7 linked regions of the Homo sapiens genome follow. The protein of the gene in region 1 purifies or fractionates together with the protein of each later gene. This does not show direct contact. Each region holds a gene or a part of one and is shown in the gene's direction. Other genes may lie near its edges.

What was found.
Region 2: the proteins of PLEKHA5 (region 1) and KIF13B purify together in Homo sapiens (affinity purification with mass spectrometry, with the first as the bait; one large-scale study listed by BioGRID). This does not show direct contact.
Region 3: the proteins of PLEKHA5 (region 1) and LRFN1 purify together in Homo sapiens (affinity purification with mass spectrometry, with the first as the bait; one large-scale study listed by BioGRID). This does not show direct contact.
Region 4: the proteins of PLEKHA5 (region 1) and DCLK1 purify together in Homo sapiens (affinity purification with mass spectrometry, with the first as the bait; one large-scale study listed by BioGRID). This does not show direct contact.
Region 5: the proteins of PLEKHA5 (region 1) and ZBTB21 purify together in Homo sapiens (affinity purification with mass spectrometry, with the first as the bait; one large-scale study listed by BioGRID). This does not show direct contact.
Region 6: the proteins of PLEKHA5 (region 1) and AGAP1 purify together in Homo sapiens (affinity purification with mass spectrometry, with the first as the bait; one large-scale study listed by BioGRID). This does not show direct contact.
Region 7: the proteins of PLEKHA5 (region 1) and PPP2R2C purify together in Homo sapiens (co-immunoprecipitation; one large-scale study listed by IntAct). This does not show direct contact.

The regions. Positions count from the first base shown.
Region 1 is NC_000012.12:19,373,817-19,376,900, forward strand, and holds the end of PLEKHA5 (pleckstrin homology domain-containing family A member 5), read left to right. Parts: intron 1-1,714; coding exon of another isoform or gene 1,715-1,749; 3' UTR 1,750-2,584; downstream 2,585-3,084.
Region 2 is NC_000008.11:29,066,778-29,071,070, reverse strand, and holds the end of KIF13B (kinesin-like protein KIF13B), read left to right. Parts: intron 1-304; coding exon 305-567; 3' UTR 568-3,793; downstream 3,794-4,293. UniProt on the Homo sapiens protein: Involved in reorganization of the cortical cytoskeleton. Regulates axon formation by promoting the formation of extra axons. May be functionally important for the intracellular trafficking of MAGUKs and associated protein complexes.
Region 3 is NC_000019.10:39,306,066-39,308,464, reverse strand, and holds the end of LRFN1 (leucine-rich repeat and fibronectin type III domain-containing protein 1 precursor), read left to right. Parts: coding exon 1-832; 3' UTR 833-1,899; downstream 1,900-2,399. UniProt on the Homo sapiens protein: Promotes neurite outgrowth in hippocampal neurons. Involved in the regulation and maintenance of excitatory synapses. Induces the clustering of excitatory postsynaptic proteins, including DLG4, DLGAP1, GRIA1 and GRIN1.
Region 4 is NC_000013.11:35,768,152-35,771,382, reverse strand, and holds the end of DCLK1 (serine/threonine-protein kinase DCLK1), read left to right. Parts: 3' UTR 1-2,731; downstream 2,732-3,231.
Region 5 is NC_000021.9:42,000,361-42,003,860, reverse strand, and holds part of ZBTB21 (zinc finger and BTB domain-containing protein 21), read left to right. Parts: intron 1-899; 5' UTR 900-964; exon of another isoform or gene 965-1,511; intron 1,512-3,500. UniProt on the Homo sapiens protein: Acts as a transcription repressor.
Region 6 is NC_000002.12:235,500,543-235,504,042, forward strand, and holds part of AGAP1 (arf-GAP with GTPase, ANK repeat and PH domain-containing protein 1), read left to right. Parts: intron 1-3,500. UniProt on the Homo sapiens protein: GTPase-activating protein for ARF1 and, to a lesser extent, ARF5. Directly and specifically regulates the adapter protein 3 (AP-3)-dependent trafficking of proteins in the endosomal-lysosomal system.
Region 7 is NC_000004.12:6,320,081-6,322,614, reverse strand, and holds the end of PPP2R2C (protein phosphatase 2, regulatory subunit B, gamma), read left to right. Parts: 3' UTR 1-2,034; downstream 2,035-2,534. UniProt on the Homo sapiens protein: The B regulatory subunit might modulate substrate selectivity and catalytic activity, and might also direct the localization of the catalytic enzyme to a particular subcellular compartment.

The DNA.
Region 1 (3,084 bases):
TAATATTTTGATTCAATAAACAGATTATGACTGTACACATATCCTTCCAATAATAAAGGATATTCAGAGTTAAAACTCAAGTATATTTCCAGGTTCCTTAAATTGTTATAGGATTTTATTTTGTTTTCTTCTTATTCCAAGAGCAGTGGCATACTGTAATGAGGTATGATTATTGTCGGATATTTTCTAGTCTCATGGTATGCAACTACCACAAATAACTAAAGGCATGAAAACTTGTATTATTTCATATCTTCCTATTATGCATATGCCATCTTTCTGAACTAGTGGTTTTGGCAGGATTTAGGAAACCTTTACAAATGACACTACGATGTAGGCAGCTCAATAATTATTACGTATTTTAGTGGAGTTATGCAAATGTTTGCTCATTTTGTTGATCTTTTGGATTCAGCTACGTTTGGTACTTTTTTTTTTTTTTTGCAGTTGCAAGATTTAATAGAGTGAAAACAGAGCTCCCCTAAAATGGGAGGGGACCCAAAGGGGGTTGCCGTTGCCAGCGGTACATTTTTTATTCTGTATTGCTATTTATAATCACATTATGTTGGCCGGGCACAGTGGCTCACGGCTGTAATCCCAACACTTTGTGAGGCCGAGGCGGGCGGAACACAAGGTCAGGAGATCGAGACCATTGTGGCCAACATGGTTGAAACTCCGTCTCTACTGAAAATACAAAAATTAGCTGGGCGTGGTGGCATGCACCTGTAGTCTCAGCTACTCTAGAGGCTGAGGCAGGAAAATCACTTGAACCCGGGAGGTGGAGGTTGCAGTGAGCCAAGATTGCGCCACTGCACTCCAGCCTGGGCGACAGAGCGAGACTCAGTCTCAAAAATAATAAGAAGGCCAGGTGCAGTGGCTCACACCTGGAATCCTAGCACTTTGGGAGGCCGAGGCGGGCGGATTGCCTGAGTTCAGGAGTTTGAGACCAGCCTGGGCAACACGGTGAAACCCCGTCTCTACTAAAATACAAAAAATTAGCTGGATGTGGTGATGTGCACCTGTAGTCCCAGCTACTCAGGAGGCTGAGGCAGGAGAATTGTTGGAACCCAGGAGGCAGAGGTTGCAGTGAACTGAGATCGTGCCACTGCACTCCACCCTGGGCAACAGAGCAAGACTCCGTCTCCAAAATGATGATAATAATAATAATAATGAAGAGAAGGAGGAGGAGGAGGAAGGAAGAAGAATTGCATTACATTATGTTTCCTTGTGGGGCCGGGTATAGTGGCTCATGCCTGTAATCCTAGCACTTTGGGAGGCCAAGGCAGTCAGATCAGTTGAGGCCAGGGGTTCGAGACCAGCCTGGCCAACATGGTGAAACCCCGTCTCTACTAAAAATACAAAAATTAGCCAGGCATGGTGATATGTGCCTGTAATCCCAGCTAGTTGGGAGACTGAGGCAGGAGAATCGCTTGAACCCAGGACGCAGAGGTTGCAGAGAGCCGGGATCATACCACTGCACCCCAGCCTAGGCGATAGTGATACCCTGTCTCAAAAAAAAAAAATTGCATTATGTTTCTTTGCTTTGTGAATTAAGCTATGGAAATGAAGAAAAATATCCTTTGATGTATTGTATTTTAGGATTTTCATGGCCATGCTTGTCAGTTCTGTTGTTACAGAATGTCACCCTTAGTTACTTTGGGAAATGGTAATTAATTAACGTTGCAGGTGTCAAAGTAATTTCCTCTCTCTTATTTTTCAGCTATACTGACTTCTGTTGAAACCATTCAAAGCTAAAGACATGGACCTTCAGCAGTGTAAGAAGATATTGTACAGTATATTTTAAATCTATGAAATTCATAGTTCTGATGCTTTTGGTCACAGAGCATCATTTTATCACTTCTGGAAAATGTTTATTCCAAAACAGCTTTAATGGCCCATATGTACACTTCGTAATCTCAAGGTTATTATTCTGACACCAGCTTGCTGCTATGATTTCAGAGCACATAAGTAAAGGTGCTTTTTAATGTGCAGTCTATTTCCAGAGCTTACTTAGTTGCTGATTTCCAGATTTCGATGTTTCTTAAGTCTAGGTGAATTTATATATATATTTTTTTGCTTTTCATTTTCTAAAGTTAGTTATTATTTCCATTGAAGCTTGTTTTCTTTTTTTTCTTCCCATTTTAGCTACTGCAGTGCTTTTGTTTCACACTTGATTTGTAAAAATTTTATATATATGTATTTAAAATGTGCCATTTTATTGCTAAGTGAAGTATGTCCTGTTTTCTGCTATAATTCTTTCTCGGTCAGATTGCAATGTCAGCAGTTACTGCCACACTCCTGTCAGCTTAAACACAAATGTTACTGCTTATCTTTTCTTAAAAAAAAAAAAAACAAAGTGTAGGTATTTTGAAGTACTGGGCTTATATTTCATTGGAATACATGTGTACAGCAATAAGCAGGTTTCCAAATCCGGTACTTAGTTTGTGTACAAATGTAATTATGTTCATTGTGTATATATTATACAATGAGCACATGTAATGTATTAAAGGCTACTTACTATTGTTTAAATGCAAATGTTCATATCTCATTTCTTTTTTTATCATGTTAAATAAATGTTGATGTTCTTAAATCAGTGTTAGAATTTTTGTTCTTTCCATCCAAAATTGAAAGTCTTAAGACTCAAGAGACCTCTAGAAGAAAAGGTACTCTGTTAATTTTATAATCCTAGACAACATCTTAAAAGATCCTTGTCGGTCCAACCCTCCCATGTCAAAGTTGAGGACCTTGAGGCTCAAAGAGATCAATTGAGTTGGCCACAATTTAATGACAGAATTTTGACCAGACTATAGTTTTTTCTGACTTTTTCTCTAAGTACATTACATTAGCTCATTACCACTAGAGGAGTTTAGTTTTGTGAAGTCTTTTACCACGTTTCTATTTGCTTCCATGTTTCAGAAAGTAACTTCAAGCATCAGTAGTCCTGCTCTGTTTAGGGATTGGACTTTGAGAGAGGTGTGTAAGGCAGCTGTTTGTCTGACATGGGTAGCTAGAAACCGTTTCATCGTAAGTAGGACCCTCAGAGATCATTTTCTCTTACAATACATTCTTTGCAGATGTTCACGCTCTTCA
Region 2 (4,293 bases), on another chromosome or scaffold:
ATGCTTCCACAAGGCACTCCCCAGGGCCCCCAGGGCCTGTCACCTCCTACCTGAGGCTGCAGGACTGGGGCTGTGCATCCTTGGTCACCACTGCTCACTGTCCTGGGAGGCGGTCACCCCAGGCCCTGGCCACATTCATTTAGCCAGTCCCTGCCAGACAATGGCCAGTGTCCGAGTGCTGGCTGTGTAGGGCCTGTGCGGGGGGGTGGCAGTGTGGGCACATGGCCTCTGCAGAGGTAAGGGAGGTGCAGGGGGCCGTCTGCAGCTCGGCTGCCCTCCATATCACCCTCTCCTTCCCCCGCAGGTAAGAATGACGGTTCCATCGGCGGGAAGCAGTACTTCAGGTGTAACCCTGGCTACGGGCTGCTGGTCAGGCCCAGCCGGGTCCGCAGGGCCACGGGCCCTGTGCGGCGGCGCAGCACAGGACTCCGGCTGGGTGCCCCCGAGGCCCGCCGGAGCGCCACCCTCTCGGGCTCCGCCACCAACCTGGCCTCGCTGACAGCTGCCCTGGCCAAGGCCGACAGGAGCCACAAGAACCCTGAGAACCGGAAATCCTGGGCCAGCTGAGCCGCTGCCTTAGGGCGAACTTTTCTGGGGGTGCCCGGCCCCTTTTGAGCCCTGCCAGTGACAGCCCTGAGGAGCCAGGAGCCCGGTGGCCCCTTCCCCAGGGGCAGGGCGATGAATGCTTTTTGCACGACACAGGGCTGGTGACCTCCCTGGGCCTCTGGAAGCTTTGTTTCTTCTGTACCCGGGTAAAGTGGGGGCCTCAACTGTGCCTCCTCAGGTGGATGGAAGGTTCTGGGTGCCCGCAGGGGCTGGGGGATGCTAGGACTGAGACCCTGGGTGGTGCAGCGCCTGGTGATCTTGCTGTGTGCCTGTGCCTGGGGCCTTATGTTGCTCTTTCTATCATTTCCATTCTGGTGGCCCCACTAATGTCTTAACCTAAACCATAATTGTAACCAGTGCCTTTCCTCCCCACTGGAGGGCAAGCCCCCCCACCCACCCAGGATGTCCTGGCTCACTCCGCAAGCCCCCCAGCCTCCCACCCTGGTCCCAGTTTCCCGCAAAGTGCCTCTGGGGGACCCCCCAGCCTCCCACCCTGGTCCCAGGTTCCACAAGTGCCTCTGGAGGGCCCTGGGCTCTGGCAGATGGTCCTGGTGCCCCAGACGGGGGCCGAGGGCCTGAGCCCCCCCATCCCTCCTCTGCCAGGGTTTCTTAGCGGTTTCTCTGTGGATGTTTTGGCATCTTTAGACACCTGGAAAGTCTCTTATGTTTGCCGTTTATTCCCTTCACAGAAGGCTTGGAATGTATTTATTTATATTTATTTTTTCAAAATCCGAAATCATTTGCGAGCCGCAATCGTCGTCTGCCTGTGTGGGGGGGCCCAGGGCCTGCCTTGCACGTTGCAGCCTCTCTGGCCATTGCAGAGCTGCTGGCCTCCTGCCCAGGTGGAGGGTCCTGGGGACGGCAGAGGATAAAGCCCCCTCCTCACATCCCTCTATTGCGGATCCACAGTGGCCTTACTCTTAACTTGGATGAGAGCAAAAACCTGGGAGAATGATGTGCTTCTGTAGTCGGTGACAAAGGAAGAGGCATTGCTACTTTATTTGGTGCACTTTTGGTTTCTAGGAAGGTCTTTGGGTCATTTTAACTTCTCGGCAACTCCCAGACTCTCAGAGTGTGGGGCTGGGGCCTGGCGGCTGGGCTGGTGCAGGGAGTGTGCTGGTTAGTCTCCAGACCCTCACAGCAGCCACGCCCCCAGGCCCACCGTGCATGGTGTGGGCGGGACAGCCGGAAGCTTCCGGGGTGGCCTCCACCTCCTGGCTGGGGCACTTATGCTCCCAGAGCCTTTGGTGCCAGGTTTGTGGGATGGGGGTTAGCGTCTATGTGTGGAAGGCCACCAATCTAGGGACAGGAGTCCTGGGTCAAGATTCACACAGCCACCCTTGGAGCTGGTTTCTAGTTCTCACATTTAGTCAACATCTAGAAAGCGCTGCGGAAGGCTCTGGTTCTCTAGGGACTTGAAGGCGCCAACAGAGTAGTCTCCATGGTGGGCCTGTCCCAGCCCTGGCTGCGAGGACAGGTTGTCTTTCTCTCCCCAGTTGGCGAGGGACACGAAGGCTGCGGCCGGGCTGGCAGAGGGCCCGGCCCCTGGGGGGAGGCACTCCTCCAGGGCTCTCCCTGTCCTTAGCCGATTTTGAGGGAACCCTGTGGCACCTGTCCCTGGATGAAGAGCTGTCACCTCTGCCTTGCCCTTTAACTCAACCCGCTTCCCAGCACAGCGGCTTTCTTTTTAAAACCTGTTTCACTGAGAAGTTTGTTTTTGGGTCCGCTGGTGTCACTATGGCCTGGGTGAGAGGCCAGCACTGCTGCTGCCCTGAGGGGAAACGCCTGGGCCGTGTAGTGGGGACGCTCTGGGAATGGTGGCGGACGGGCAGCGTGGGTGGGACCTGGCACTTCGTGGTGGCTGAGCCATCCACCCAGCAGCGGCCTCCTGTAGCACCATCTTGGGAAAGTCCTGGGGGACGTGTGTGTCGTGCTTTTTACCATCGGTTTGACTTACAGTGGAGTAGAACGAGCCAGAGTTCCTGACTTGAGCAGGTGGATTTGGGCCCAGGCCCTGTTCACTCTTGCTTCTCGGTGCGGACTAATGTCAGCTTGTGGCTGGGAAAGAGGGATGTGCAGTGACGTGGTCACCAAGGCAGTGAGCCCCGCTGACCCCGGGCCAGCACTTGGCAGGCAGGAGGTGCGGTCTCCAGAGTGGTGGGCCAGGGCGGGCTGGCCTCCGTCTTCTATCTTCTTTTCTTGCCTCCCTGACCAGCAGACTCACCTCCCAAGAACGCCTGCCCGCCCACCCGCCTTAGGACTCCCGATGCGCTCCTGGAAGGCCCCAGGAGTGGCACCTTAGTGTGGGTCGGCCCGCAGATGGCACCCAAGGCCGGGAAGGGCAGTAACTGCACACGCGGCGCTGTCAGAGATGGGGGTGGGGGATGCTTCTGGGGGCCCTGCCTCCCCATTGTGTGCCCAGAACATCCCTGGCCCCACCCCGCCACTTCCCTCGGGCCCTTATGAAGGACTGAGGCTCCAGGGTGAGAAGGCTCACTTCTGCCCCGGGCACTGCGTCCAGCAGCAGAGGGGACAGGGGGCAGGTGTGTGACTGGGTTCCTGGGTACCCAGGCCTGACCAGAGGGAGCGGGAGGGCAGAGGTGAGGAGGGGGAAGATGTTTCTGGGCCTACCAAGGTTCAACAAGAGAACGGAGCTGGGAATGTGACTGCTGGAGCCTGAGAGGTGGAGGAGTTCTGATCCCCCGTTACTTCCTAGCATTTTCTCCTCTTGCCTTAAAAGTTCCCTGTATGTGAAACGGGAAGTCCTGAGAGTGTGTGTTGGTGGCTGTGCGCACGCACACAAGACGGGAGTCACCCTGTGCTTCCTGCCCAAGATACTGACCCATTGAACCCCCAAAGCATCTTTCTCTCCACAAAGTCCGTGGTGCCTTCCTGGTGGGCTGCAGACACTAATGGTGTTGGGGGGTCTTGGAACAGCTTCTCTATGTGTGGATTCGTGTAAATGCGAAGAGTTCACATATAAAGAAGTGACTTTGATTCTGTGATTATATTGATTTGGTACACAGTAAATGGGAGTTTAAAAAATCCAAAGACTCTAATGACTTGTAAAGACTCTAATGATTTGTATCATGTAATGAACTAAACCACCTGTAATTTTGTACCGTATGTGTCTTTCCATCAAATGACCAACAGCTTCTCAATAAAACCAGACCATTTCTCACCTGCATCATGTCTGAGGCCAGTCTTGTTGCTTCTCCTTCCCCTCACCCCAACATAGGGTTTTGGGGCTCCTGGCAGGCCATCCTGTCATGGTGTGGCCTTGTTCTCAGCAAAGGTGGTGCGGGGCTTTTCCAGACTGAGACTGGGAGGAGGAGGATCAGGGAACAGCAGCAGGCCGTGCTCGCCTCCCCAGCCCATGGACTTCAGAGGCTGAACTCTTCATGATTTGGACTTAAGAGCCCAGGAGGCCCCCCGGTTCTGAGTCATCTTTCCTTGTTTGGACTTCAGCCCCTTACTGAAGCCAGGAACCATGGAAACTTTCTGGGGCCCTTCGACCCCAGGTAAGTGGTGCTACTGGGAGACAGGTGACCTGGTAGGGACTCTCCTTGGCTCTCAGGCATGACTCCACTGTCTGCTGTGACCTTCGTGTTGGTCCCCACACTGGACCTCCCCTCTCCCCTCAAACTGGGGTGAGAGGACTTCTTTCCCCTGCTGCAGAGGTGGGCA
Region 3 (2,399 bases), on another chromosome or scaffold:
GGTCTACGACGACGGGGCCACAGCGCTGCCGGCAACGCGAGTGGTGGGCTGTGTACAGTTCACCACCGCTGGGGATCCGGCGCCCTGCCGCCCGCTGAGGGCCCATTTCTTGGGCGGCACCATGATCATCGCCATCGGGGGCGTCATCGTCGCCTCGGTCCTCGTCTTCATCGTTCTGCTCATGATCCGCTATAAGGTGTATGGCGACGGGGACAGCCGCCGCGTCAAGGGCTCCAGGTCGCTCCCGCGGGTCAGCCACGTGTGCTCGCAGACCAACGGCGCAGGCACAGGCGCGGCACAGGCCCCGGCCCTGCCGGCCCAGGACCACTACGAGGCGCTGCGCGAGGTGGAGTCCCAGGCTGCCCCCGCCGTCGCCGTCGAGGCCAAGGCCATGGAGGCCGAGACGGCATCCGCGGAGCCGGAGGTGGTCCTTGGACGTTCTCTGGGCGGCTCGGCCACCTCGCTGTGCCTGCTGCCATCCGAGGAAACTTCCGGGGAGGAGTCTCGGGCCGCGGTGGGCCCTCGAAGGAGCCGATCCGGCGCCCTGGAGCCACCAACCTCGGCGCCCCCTACTCTAGCTCTAGTTCCTGGGGGAGCCGCGGCCCGGCCGAGGCCGCAGCAGCGCTATTCGTTCGACGGGGACTACGGGGCACTATTCCAGAGCCACAGTTACCCGCGCCGCGCCCGGCGGACAAAGCGCCACCGGTCCACGCCGCACCTGGACGGGGCTGGAGGGGGCGCGGCCGGGGAGGATGGAGACCTGGGGCTGGGCTCCGCCAGGGCGTGCCTGGCTTTCACCAGCACCGAGTGGATGCTGGAGAGTACCGTGTGAGCGGCGGGCGGGCGCCGGGACGCCTGGGTGCCGCAGACCAAACGCCCAGCCGCACGGACGCTGGGGCGGGACTGGGAGAAAGCGCAGCGCCAAGACATTGGACCAGAGTGGAGACGCGCCCTTGTCCCCGGGAGGGGGCGGGGCAGCCTCGGGCTGCGGCTCGAGGCCACGCCCCCGTGCCCAGGGCGGGGTTCGGGGACCGGCTGCCGGCCTCCCTTCCCCTATGGACTCCTCGACCCCCCTCCTACCCCTCCCCTCGCGCGCTCGCGGACCTCGCTGGAGCCGGTGCCTTACACAGCGAAGCGCGGGGAGGGGCAGGGCCCCCTGACACTGCAGCACTGAGACACGAGCCCCCTCCCCCAGCCCGTCACCCGGGGCCGGGGCGAGGGGCCCATTTCTTGTATCTGGCTGGACTAGATCCTATTCTGTCCCGCGGCGGCCTCCAAAGCCTCCCACCCCACCCCACGCACATTCCTGGTCCGGTCGGGTCTGGCTTGGGGTCCCCCTTTCTCTGTTTCCCTCGTTTGTCTCTATCCCGCCCTCTTGTCGTCTCTCTGTAGTGCCTGTCTTTCCCTATTTGCCTCTCCTTTCTCTCTGTCCTGTCGTCTCTTGTCCCTCGGCCCTCCCTGGTTTTGTCTAGTCTCCCTGTCTCTCCTGATTTCTTCTCTTTACTCATTCTCCCGGGCAGGTCCCACTGGAAGGACCAGACTCTCCCAAATAAATCCCCACACGAACAAAATCCAAAACCAAATCCCCCTCCCTACCGGAGCCGGGACCCTCCGCCGCAGCAGAATTAAACTTTTTTCTGTGTCTGAGGCCCTGCTGACCTGTGTGTGTGTCTGTATGTGTGTCCGCGTGTAGTGTGTGTGTGTGTGTGTGTGTGTGTGTGTGTGTGTGTGTGTTGGGGGAGGGTGACCTAGATTGCAGCATAAGGACTCTAAGTGAGACTGAAGGAAGATGGGAAGATGACTAACTGGGGCCGGAGGAGACTGGCAGACAGGCTTTTATCCTCTGAGAGACTTAGAGGTGGGGAATAATCACAAAAATAAAATGATCATAATAGCTAACGCTTAGTGAATACTTACTTACTATGTGCCAAGCACTTAAGTCATTTAATTCTCACAACACCAGGACATATCGGTATTATTATCCTGTTTTCCAGATGAGGGAATTTTGGCCCAGAAAAGTTAAATAACTGGCCCAAGGTGGTAAAACTGGGATTTAAAAAGGCAGGCAGGCCAACTTCTGAGTCTCTACTATAGGGGTGAAAAGACAGCTTCCCCTTCACTCTCTGAAATTTCACTGGAATGGGCTGACAATAGATTAACAAGAGAAAAGGAATATGGAGGGTATTTAACATGCACTAGGAAAATCACAGGAAAGTGATTACCCAATAACCCAGTGAGGTTTATATACTTATATACCTTTCTTCACAGGAGGGGAGATGGGGAAAGGAAGGCAATTTTGAGGGGTAATAAATGATTTTGGGGAAAATAAATGGGTCCAGGAGATAGAATTTAGCTTGTAAATGTCTCTGGAATTTGAGACTGACAGACAGATAATTTCT
Region 4 (3,231 bases), on another chromosome or scaffold:
AAATAAGCAGAGAAAAAAAAATGTGAATAAACTACTGAAAACACTTGGTGTTTTGTGTTCAATGAGACCTTCCTGCAACCTGCTCCCCATGGGTGGCAGTTAACAGGCCCATCAGATATTGTTGAAAGAAAGCAATATATCCATGAATGAAGGCTAAAATTGCAATCCTTTACCCTTTGAGGCATATTTCAGTTGAAAACAAAAAGAAAAGAAAATTTGGCTTAGAGGGTCACAGAGCTCCCATATGACCAAGTCTCAAGCACATTAAATCATGGTTGTTTACTGGCCAAGGGCGTCCACTAGACAACTCTATCCCTTGCGCTGAAGCTCAATCGTGCTGAGGGAGAGCTTTCTTAATATTACTGTGTTGCTCTTAGCCCTTCTCTGGGTTAGGATCTGTCAGCATTTCTATGATAAACTCCTATTCTCAAAGGTTTTTAATTTGACCATAAAAATGTGCCCCAGGCTGAAGTTTGCTATACAGGGCTGTACCAAAGAGTGAAGGTTTACTTCCTTCTCTTTCCAACTTCTTCCCCATTCTCCAAGGAAAAGAACAACAAAAAAATCTGGTATGGTCCCTCCTTAATAGTGATTTCAGAATTTTGGAAAGCACCAAGATCCAAGATGGTAGTTTTAATGTAGTTACTCATTCGCACACATTTTTTAAATTTAATGGGTCACCTGGCATATATTGTAGATAACATATCTTTTCTATAATTTGTAAGTCAATAATTTTTTTAACTGCTACATGATATTTTTTTTTGCCCAAAGATTTTAAAAGACTTGAAGTTGGTCAGTTCAAAACTCAGATTTTTCTACACATTGTCTGCCATGTCCATTAGGAGTTTGGGGAAAATACTCTCACACAGACCCTTACTTTGCATGCAGTTTAGAGGGTAAGATACGTGCTTCTTTTGGGGATAAAGATTTCCTTACTTAATTGTCAAATTTCATGGAGCCATTCTAGTCTGTTGGGGAAAATAGTGATTAAAAGCACTTCCAAAATTAACATTTTTTGACAATTCAGATATGAAAAGAAGCAGGGGAAAATAATACACTTTACTCTTTTCTTGCTTAAAGGCAAACAAATCAATGAAACTTGAGGACACACTAAACATTTGATAACTGCAAATGTGCTTTAAAAATTGGTTCAATGGTGCTTACACATGAAACGGTAACAAATGGGGTTCCTAGGACGTCAGAAGGAATCTTTAGTTTGTATGTAATTACACACTAGAGGAGGAGGTGCTTTTAAGCCAGTCTTTTATTTTTAATCATCTCAAATATGCAACCATACATGCAGTAACATTAAGGGTCGTAAACTGGTGGGAAACAGGAACTTCAGTGGAGAGGCTTAAATGCCTCTGGTTAGAGTGGGGGTTTTTGTTTGTTTGTTTATTGTTGGGTTTCAACACTGAGCATCATTTCTGTGATCAAGTTTCTAACTGGCATGTGTTTTGATCATGAGGTTTACCATATCTTGCCCATACAGACAAATGAGAGATCTAGTTTCATTTTGTTCCCTAAAGAAAGAACACTCTCTAAAATTAAATCATACCTGTAAATTTCTTCAGCATTTGTTTCTGTTCAATGAAATTGAGACCCTTAATGTTGCTTTAATGTAAAATTGAATATTTTGTCTGTGATATACTTTAATAATTTAAAGTAAGTAATAGTTCTAAAGTCTTCACTGTTGCTACTAAGAGAAAATAGAATTTTAAAGGTGATGATAAAGATGCTATAATGTCAGTTCACTCCAGTCCAATCAAATGTAGTAAGAAAAAGTCCTTGAATAGTTCTCTAGGGACAATTTCTCACTTGCCATTGACATTAATCTTTGGTGTATTCTCAGAAAAAATAAAAAGAAATTGAAACTGGTCCAAGGTTATAGTCATATCCTCGATAACTTTTGAAAAAAAATTTTATTAGGAAATTAATACTAGCCTTTTTCATTCTGGCTGAAAGAAAATTATTAAAGGATTAGTTGAGTGTGAAATTCAACAGTATTTTGCTCATACATACTAAAAAGGTGCGTAGGGACTTGGCGCATTTAAACAAGTTTCTGAAAGGTTTCAATTTGACTCAAGAAAAAAATTCAATATTTCTTTTGAAAATACTGAATTTATCACTTGCTGCATGGATCAGATGGCATAGGTTAATCTTTGATTTTCAGAATCCTAATGAAATAACTTTCAAACAATTTGTGTCCTTAATTAAAGGTGGAATGAGATCCAATTTTTCCCCCTAATCCTTCAGTTTAAGCTGATACATGTAGGTTAATGTGGAATGAAATCATCTGTGATATATTATGTTCATTTATCAACTGAGCTTTTTTGATGTTGCCTGTTTTTATGTAAAACATGTTCTTAAAGTTAATAAAATAATAGTACTTGGTGTATGAACTACTACATAATACCTTAGCTGAAGGGTACGCTCCTCAGTTCATTTGCCATATTGGAGTAAAATTTCACCTTAGTTCAATTCACAATTGACACATTCAGTTCACGAAGGAATAGCCCAGCTGTGTTCTTAGGGGGAATTCTCTCTATGCAAGGCTTTAAAAATTAGTCATGCGGTCAGAGTGTAGCTTTCCCACATGTCCTCCATAGCACAGTGTGTATTTCATGAGCATAATTCAAAAACAGCTATTTCAAAAATGTCCCTTGTCATATATTACGTTCCTGCCTGGGCCACTGACTTGGATAAATACAAATAAACCAAATACCATTCAGCCCTATTTTATCCTTCAACCTACGTGCACAGGCTCTCCAGAGAAGGGTGTTGTTTTATCCACTAACCTGTAATTAGCTGCCACTTTTGTAGCAATTTCCCATTAGGCATTCCATGTGTAATATTGGCCTTAGAGAAAATTGCAAAACTGTACAATGGATTTAAGTTCTTTCCTGTCGAGCTTTTCAATGCTAGGAGATTGAAAAGTCAGCCAGCAAAAGTGACTGCAGGTTCCCTGGTGTCCTATGAAGGTGCCAGAATATCTCCAAGTGCCTGTAAAATTAGCAGTCACCTTCCCTGCCATCCACAGGCTGCTGCTGCAGCTGCTGTTCTCCCTTTTGCTGTACTGTACTGTCGTGAAGTCACTGGGTCCTTTCTAGACTCTCTGGCAACTGCTGGGAAACAATAGCTAAAGTGATTACTTCCTAAAGACCATTACCTTGTTTTACGAGGCTGGCAGCTCTGCCAAAAACCTGCCATCGAAAACCTGGGCCTTGGCGT
Region 5 (3,500 bases), on another chromosome or scaffold:
TTGGAAGGTTTTAAGCCCCAGCAAGGCCAGATGAGCATTTCTGAAAAGCGTCTATAGTAGAAATGTAAAGAATGGAACCTTTAGTATTAGAGGTTGACTATCCCTTATCTGAAATGCTTGGGACCAGAAGTGTTTCAGATTTCAGATTGTTTGGGATTTTGAAATATTCTCATTATACCCAGTGGTTCAGCGTCCCTAATCCAAAAGTCCAAAATGCTCTAATGAGCCTTTCCTTTGTGCATCATGTCGTTGCTCAGAAAGTAGTTTTGGGTTTTTGGACTAGAGATATTCAGCTTGTATTATAATTGTCAAAGGAGTGATGAGTCCCAAGCCTTCCTTAGGACTATTCACTCATAGTTAATAGTGAATAGTTCCCACTATTCACTCTTCCACCCTCCTACACCCTGGCCAAATTAATTGCTTCCTGGAATCAGTATTCCCGTAGCATTCTTCACATCCTTTGTTAATTATTGTCTGTCCTAACATGGAAATGTGAGCTACAGGAGAACAAGAAGCAGGCCAGTTACTCATCTCCCCATCACCAGCACCTCTTGTGATGTGTGGTGGGTAGCAGGCCCACGCAAGCATCTGTGAGGGGAAGTGGAGAAGGAAGGAAGATGTGCATGTGCCACATGGGAAGTGCTGAACGTACTGGGGCTTTCAAACATGTTGCCTCTTCTGTCCTTCATAAAAATCCTATGTGGTGGGTAGTGTTAGCCATGTTTAACAGGTAAGGAAACTAGTCAGAAAGGTTGAGTCATCTTTAGAAGGTTCCATGCCTAATAGGTGGCGGAGCCAGGATTTGAGACAAATAGACTGATTCGAAAGGCTTTTCCATGGAACTGTAAGGTCTTCTGTGAATTGTTAACCATAAAGATTCTCTCATTTTGAAATTTCAGAAGACATGAAGTAGAAACAATCCAGGAAGGCTTTGGGAAGCTATTTGTGTGCGAGGATCAAAGTGGTAAGCAAGCCGGCCCTATTTTAGAAACTGGTTTTCCTGGGGGGTTTTCCTCTTAGTTTTTTCTGTTGCTCGTAAATAGACCTTTTCTCCAAATTTCACCCACTGGTCTTTTAAGAGCTCCAAGGTTTTTCCACCATGACTGAAGTGGCAGAAGTTCTGCCGTGATGAGTCAGGTGGAGATGAGCCGTGGAAAGGAGGGGCGTAGACGGTGGTGGCAGCAGTGCGTGTTTATGTGTAAGATGCACTGCTTCTGTAAGTCGGAGGCCCTGATTACTCATAATGAAAACCTGCATGGAAATTTGGAGTGATGTGCCAGCAAACTTATCGGTCTAGATCTGAAAAATACACTGAGGAGAAAGTACACCCGGCAACAAAGCTCGCCTTATCTGACAGCAGAAGAGCAGAGAAATCAAAAGTTTTTGAGGATTCGGTGTACACAGCCACCAGCCACAAACAGTCTTGCTGGATTATCTCGTGATCGTCAGCAGTTGTGATTTTCCCCCTTTTTACTTACATTCTTGATGGATGGAGCATTTTATATTTTTAGGTAATTGTTAAACTCAAATATACTGACTGTCATTAAAACACAAAAATTCAATATGTTAATTGTCTGTCTGCAGCCAGACTAGGAAAGGGTACATTGTTTTCAAAACTTAATAATTGAATTAAAATGTAAAAAAAACAAGGGCCTTAATGTGAAGGTGAGGGATCTGCATCTCCTAGCTACCCCTGTCTCCTATCTAGACATCTAGAGTCTCTAGATCCTGGGGTACTGGGGAGAATGGACAATGTTGCTTTCCTGTGCAAGATCCTCAGATGACATATTTTAGCCCCCAGGGCGCTCATGCCTCCATCTTCCTCCAGCCTCATGGGCATTTCCTCCCCTATGTGTACCTTTACCTTTCACCAGGCAAAGCCACCTGTGGTTCCCTTGGATTCCTCCTGCTCTGTCTTGTCTCTGTAGTGTTGCATGTACTGCAGCCCAGCCAGCTGATGTGAATCTTGCCCTGCTACTTATTATCTGTCTGACATTGAGCATGTTACTTAACCCTCTGTGCCTCGGTTTTCTCATCTGTAGAATGGAGATAATAATAGTACCTAACTCCTAGGGTTGATGTCAATATTGAGTTAATACATTAAAAGTGTTTTCTTTTGTGTGTGTGGCAGAATAAGCACCCAAATTATAGCTGTTATTGAGTACCTAGTTACTGTTCTACTGAAAGGAATGGAAAATAAATACTCGTCCCTCGAAATGTCCTTCATCCTTCCTATCTCTTCCCAGCATTCCCTATAAAACTTTCTTCGTAGAACGCCCTTCCTGGCCTCCATCTCACCTGGCTCTGATGCCTGTCATCTATACTGCGTCTCTACCTCTGCAAACATCCTGTCTGCTGCTCAGCATACTGGACTAGGCTGATGAATTGACCTGTTCTCTTCCTGCACAAGACCTTAAGCTCCATGAGGCAGGGCCATACTTGTTAAATTGATATCTTCCATGTCTAGAAGGGTTCTAGCACACACTAGACAGATGCTAGCCATAAGTCTATAATTGTCTGGGTGACCTTAGGCAAATGACTTGACCTCTCAATGCCTCAGTTTTCTCATTTGTTTGTAAAAAGGATTGATGACACTGTCTAGTTCAGAAGATGATACGAGAATTGGAAGAGGAAACTAGAGGCAGTGTCGTGTAGGGGTTAAGAGCTTAGCCTCTGGATCCAAGCCAGCTGATGTGAATCCTGCTCTGCTACTTATCTCTATGACGTTGAGCATGTTACTTGACCGTCTGTGCCTCAGTTTTCTCATCTGTAAAATGGGGATAATAATAGTACCTACCTCCTATGGTTGATGTAAATATTGAGTTAATACATAAAAATAACTTCTTTATTTTTGTGTATGTGACAGAATAAACACCCAAATTTTAGCTGTTATTAAGTACCTAGTTACTGTTCTACTGAATGGAATGGAAAATAAATACTCTATAAAGTTATTCTGCACTTGTGTATCAGGAATTTGGACATCTTGAGGCACTTTTCAGGCAGGTGTGATGGCTCTAAATGGAGGTTATAGGAAAGTTAAGTTTTAAATCCCCAATAATTTTCAGGGACAGTGAGTATTTCTCTTACAACTTAACTTTGAATGACTTTATTATTGTCCCCTAGTCCATAGATGTTTTCATCCAAAGAAGATAGAGGTCTGTGATCCAAGAAATTTGAAGCAGTGACTTAGAGCAGAAATAGGGATCATGATACTTTGAATAATGCATAAAGAAGGAAACCTTTCTAAACAAAAGGGACACAAATGTTGCTTTTTTGGCAACGGGATGCATACGGTCTGTGGAATACCATTTGCTTCAGGTCCAGGGATGTAGAAAACTCCCCTTGGTTTAGTCTTCACACTAAAGGGCCAGGACAAGCCCTTGGAAGGGAGGTTTTAGTGTGAAGTGGTTAGCCGTTACCTGTGCTTCGAGTTCTGTTTGTGTCTTAGTTTGGATTCCCCCAAAAGTAGACCCCAAGACAAGGATTCAGAGGTAGACGTT
Region 6 (3,500 bases), on another chromosome or scaffold:
CCAGCTGAGAAGGTTTCCTATCAGCCTGCCCTGCAGGTTTCAGGTGAAGACACCTAAGGCCAGCTGCTCAGGGAGTTGCTTGTGGTCACGCAGGCTAAGTGTGGTGGACGAGGGACTTAAACCAGATCTGAATGGTTTCAAGCTGGTGTTCATGTGATCTTCATGATGCTGTTTGAAAAGCAGCTGAATGCTGGGTGAGGGGCCTGTCGTGCCAGACCCCTTTAAATTTCATTAGGGATGGCACCGGGTTCAAGAGACTGGAGAGGAGACCTAGAGCCAGCAAACAAAAGACAGAGGGTTTATTAGGGGAATTTATTTACAGAGTGGTCCCATGGCGGCCTGGGCAGGAGAAGCGCTGCTGCTTGCTTTCAGAAAGCGTGCAGTTTATATAGCATTTTCGCTTAACACCCTCCCCCAAACAACCACCACCCAGCAACCTTAACACCAATCAAAGAGCCTCAATACCCTGTATGGCCTGCTTTCCATGGGACAGGCTGGGGGTTTAGATGTTCCTCATAGATAAGGAATGAATCTCTGGGTTGGCCACTCCCGGATTCCTTAGCTCAGAACCCCGAACATACATTCAGGTGCACCTGCCATGTGGGGCCATTCTCAGTTATTGCTGTCAGGGGCATCTGTCAGTGGGCTGCGTTTCTGCGACACGGTGGCATGTCGGATGGACATTGCCAAGAGAATCTGGTTAGGAGGTAGAGGCAGCTGATGTCCATTTCCTTCTAGACTCATTCTGTGGTTTTGCGGATTTTCCTTCTTGTCTTTCGGAGATTGTTGCTTTTTAATGTAGTCTTATGTATATTTAGATTGGGTTCTTCAGTATTCACTTATTATATGATAATTTGGCAGATGACACATTTTGTTACCAATATTTCCAAGCTGAAAGCGCGTTTCTGTAAAAGACAGGAGCTAGATGTTACTAGTAGCTTAAAAGAGCTGTTGGAGGAGCCTGAAGGAAGTGACTCATAAGGGAGAGAAGCAGTGGGGGCAGCTGCAGGAACCTTCAAAACAAAACCTGCAGCCCTGTTGCTACCACCTCTTGTTTTTTGCCTAAACCAGGCGTTTTATTTTGTTAAGACGAAAATCCCTTATTTTGCATCCGTTTTTCCCCCTGTATACCCTGCAGGTGTTTATAGTTTGTGAGTCTCACTCTGGCTTGTTTTAACCACTGATTTCGTTTCGTCTTATGTTTCTCTACACTCTAGCAAACCTGTGTCCCCCTCCCCGCCCCCATCCCAATCCTCCAGCCTTCACGTCCTTAGCTTAAGTGATTGAGTCTGGCAAAGCGGATGAGGCTTAGCTATTTTTAAAATCCAGGGTTTGAGGTTCTGATCTGGTGCTTAGCTACATAATTCCTTCCCTTTGTTAAGTACCTTTCTCCGAGAAACAAAATGCACTCTACAGATGTTAATCTCTAATCTTTGCAGCATCTGTTATTTTTATTCAGGGGTACAAGTGCTTTGTGTGTGCTGCGGTGAGCCCTGGCCTTCTGGAAGCTCTGTGCTTCTGAGGGGCTGAGGGGGATTTGGGGGTCCCTTTTCATAGTGTGGGCTGTCTTTCCCAAGATGCAGTGATGACCCATCAGAGGCAGGGTTGGTATTGTCCGTGGGGTCCAGTCCCTCTATCTTCCAGGGCTTTTCTGGTCACAAGAGACCATGGCCAGAAGTGGGTATCGTGCTTGTGTCTGGGGCCTGGGGAGGGAAGGAAAACAAATACCACCCCCTGCAGAAGAGATCGTTAATGGATTCTTTGAGTAACCAGCCAGATAGCTTGTTTGTGTGCGAGGTTGGGACATTTTCCGTAAAGAGCAGACTAAATATAGGCTCGAGGGTGGGGACCAGGGCCCGAGAGGGGGCTGCCACTGCTTGCTCCAGTATTGTTTCTTCCATTGGTAACCAGAACTTGCCACCAGTCCCAAACAGGTGGCCACCCTGAGCTCTCTGGGAACAGATTGGTGTTTTTGTTTAACCAGGGGCTCATTTGCAAATTTCACACTTCTCCCGCTGTTTGATGGGGATTGTCTTTTTTTGGGCTGCAGTGTTGGAGTATTTGTACAGTGTTTCTACACAAGCAACTGTCTAATCTTTAAAACTGCTCATGCCGTCTGGTTGTCATTAGCATCATGGTTAGAAGCTTTTTATTTGCCTTTTTTTTTTTTTTTTTTTTTAAGGGTGGGAAAACACTTTTCATGGTTCTGGGAGAAGAATTTCAAATAATGTCCATGTTCACAAATGATTTATGTTTGGTCTTGGAGAAATGTCAGCATTCAACAGGCTCTAGTAAATACAACCATGTTGATTTCCAGCTTAGGACGAAGCTACTGTTACCCTGTTCTCACTCAGATAATAGTCTGAAAGGCAGAACCGTACCTTTAGAAAGTACATTTAGCTTCAATTCAATAAGTTTTAGTTTTAGCCAATAGTGACTTGTAGTATGGAGGATACTTGAAAGAAAGAAGTTAAACATTTTTTAAAAAATTTATGAACACCTGCAACAAATAGCCACAAGACCTACCCTTTTTTCAGGAAAGAGTTTTCACTTCTTAAATGTCACCTTGGGGGCATGCCCACTGTGTGATGGTACCCTTCAGCAGGATTGGTATTGTCGGAAGTGCTGGCTAGCTTATGTAATGAAAAAGAAATTGATTTGGAAAGAGCTGATTGCCCTGAATTTCCATCCTGTTTGTGCGTTGAGCTGCCCTTTTCAGTGGGGGAGAATCCAGCATATTTTCCAGGGAGGGCGTTTCCGGAAGCCTGTCTGCACCCCCTTTGTTGTTGTTTTCGAAGGTCTGGGGTGCTGCTGTGAGCCGGGATCGCGTATCTGCTCCTGTTCTGACGAGACTGCTCCTGCTGGAAGTTCAGCCTGGTGAACCTGATTTGGGAGGGGATGGTGTGATTGGCGGGGAACAGCATTGTGTTAATTTTAGCTTCAACAATCAAGCCTGGGTCTCTGAGTGTCCATGTAGTACTTGAAGTTTGGGTTTGGAATTGGTGGGATTGAGACCACTTCAAACTCTTTTATTTCTTGGAACTTGTTAGTATTTATTTATTTATTTTTTGAGACAGGGTCTCACTCTGTTGCTTAGGCTGAAGTGCAGTGGCACTATTGGGGCTCATTTGTAGCCTCAACCTCCCAGACTCAAGTAATCCTCCCACCTCAGCCCCCGCCAAGTAGCTGGGACTCCAGATGTGCACCATGCCTGGCTAATTCATTGGATTTTCAGTAGAGACGGGGTTTCACCATGTTGCCTGGGCTGGTCTTGACATTCTGGACTCAAGCAATCCACCTGCCTCAGCCTCCCAGAGTGCTGGGATTACAGGCATGAGCCACTGTGCCTGGCCTAGTTTTTAATTTTTGAGACAGTCTCTGTCAATCAGGCTGAAGTACAGTGGCACGATCGTGGCTCACTGAAGCCTTGCTTTCCTGAAGCGATCCTCCTGCCTTGGCCTCCCAAATAGCTGGGACCACAGGCACGCACCACCATGCCC
Region 7 (2,534 bases), on another chromosome or scaffold:
GTGTGCCTGTGTCCTCATCTGATTCACCTGCCATTTGCTGAGCCTCTGCTGTGTACCAGGCGTGGTGCTCAGCCCTAGAGGCAGTTGACTTACCCTCTGCAGCCCTCCCTGCCGCCTCACCCTTCAGCATTCACTGGGCACCTTCCCGGAGCGGACACTGACTCCCATGCACGATTTTTTGGAATCTTCCTCCTGACTGTGAGGTGGGTGTTCATTCATTTCCTCCATAAACACCAACTTCTCGAAGCGTGCCAGGCTCTGGGCTGGATGCTGGGGATAAGCGGGAACCCTTAGGATCCCCTCTGTCCACGAGAAGAAGCTGAGGCTCTGAGCGGATGCACAGGTCACCCATGGCAGGTGCCGTGCAGTGGTGTCAGGAACCCGTCCGGGTCTTCACACAAGGTTCTCTCCAGTCCATCTCGTGGGCGGCTCATGTTAGAGCGACATTCAAATGGAAGGTTTGGAAAGGAATGCCTCTGTCTTGTGAAGTAGGACATGGCAGACTTGGCGACGACAAGGGTCCAGGAGAACTGAGACGCAGGATGGAAGACAGAGAAGACCCCCCGGAGCTCCTCGCTCTGCTTGGTGGCTTCAGGAGTGTGGCCCTCCCCAGGACTCCACTTCATCCTGGGCTTGCACCCTCCTTGAGCCAATGCACTGAACTGCCTTTGAAAGGAAATTGCATGTTCTGACCATTTTAGGATACCTTTACTTTAAGGACCACACAGTCCCAGAGGACACATCCCTCGGGAACTCTGCCCCTCTGACAATGAGGGCCACAGAGAAGGTGGTGTTTCCATGGTAGATGCTCCTGTTCTGGTGATACCAAACCTGCCCACCCCTCTGAGTCGTCTTTGCTCATGGACTTGCAGCAGAGCCACGTAGTTTGGCATTTTGATTCAGAAAGTGGGGAGCAGAGACCCAGCCAAATCCAAACTTTTTTTTTGGTTTTGTTTTGTTTTGTTTTTTACAAGATATAACATAACCCAGGAAACAGACCCAGCTGAGGTTATTCTCAGTGGATTACAGTATACTTTTGTGTGTGTAAAAGCACAAAGTGCATGTGTACTCACTTCTGGCCATATAACATTTACACAGGGAAATGGATCATTGATTTTTTTTTAATCAACGTGAATGAAGAATGTTTGTTTATATATCACTATAAAATCCAGTTGACCTGGACAGTATTATATGTACATATCTATTCTAATTAAATTTAACAATCAAAGGATTGGATTACTTTTTTCCCCCTTGTAAAGAGGTTCGAGAATGTGGTCAATTGTATAGATAGCGTGTTAAAGCCAAAACCCAGCTCTGAGGGCCTTACCCATTACTTGGATATTTGCTACGATCCATCTCCCTTTGTGAGTCAAATGTTAAGAGAAGAAACTTGTATTTGCAGCTAGAGGTTACTGTCACATCATAGATTTAACATTTACCATCTTCAAAGTACAAATCTTACATGTCCTTCAAAAGGAGGTCTTAATACAGTTCCTAGTTCCTTACTTCTGTTTTAAACTTTGGGTACCAAACCAAAAAGAAGAAAAAAGAAAGGAAAAGATCTTCTTTGAAGAAAAGTATGTCTCTGGATCCCTGGAAAATAATGATGTCCAAAGCAAATTGTGAAGATCAAATGTGTGTTAAGAAAAGGTGTCGAGGGGAGGGACAAAACCAGAAACGGTGGAAGGACCAGTGTAATAGTCACAGACTTGCATCCTGGCTCTGCTTACATTTCCTGGTACTCTCGAATGTACGGGCGTTCACATAGTCATTGTGAAGTTGTTGGGGTTTTTTTGGTTTTGTTTTTAATTTAGCTCTTCTCTGAGGACGAAGCTGTTGGTGGTGGTGGTGGTGGGGGTGGTGGTGTGGGATACATGGTGGTCAAGTTGTCAGCCCTGATCAGTTTGGACTCTGTAACTCATAGGTGCATTCTTTTTTTCTTTGGTGTCTCACAAATTACCCAATTGTTGAATAAAACTATAAATATGTTAATACCAGCTTTTTCCAATAAAATAACAAATGTTACATCAAAAACGAGGTCCAGAATGCTGTTTGTTTTTAGTGAGTCCAACCTCATGGAGGTGGAGCCCATCAGGAGGCAATACAGTGGGTGGGGATGCCCATGGGCTTTGCACTGGGAAGCTGGGTTCACGTCAAGGGTTTGCTCCCTCTAGCTCCTAATGCAGCTCTTAACTTTCCCTAGCTCTGAATTCATCACTGAGGAAATGGAGCTAATAAGACGACCTATCTTGTAGGTTTGTGGTGGGAGAGGAAGGACAAGATTAACTTGGATAGTGCAAAACACAGTGCTTGGCACATGACACTCCGTAATGATAGTTGTCTTGTTTTGTCTGGCAGCAGGTGTGCATAGCCCATCATGATCTCCACACACACTCACACTCTCCATGAGAATATGATACAGATGAGGAAACTGATTCAGAGAGGTTAAAGAATTAGCTCGCAATCACACAGGTAGCACATAACTCCTCATCCAGTGCTCCCCCACAGACGTGCCTGAGGGTCCCAGAGAATGG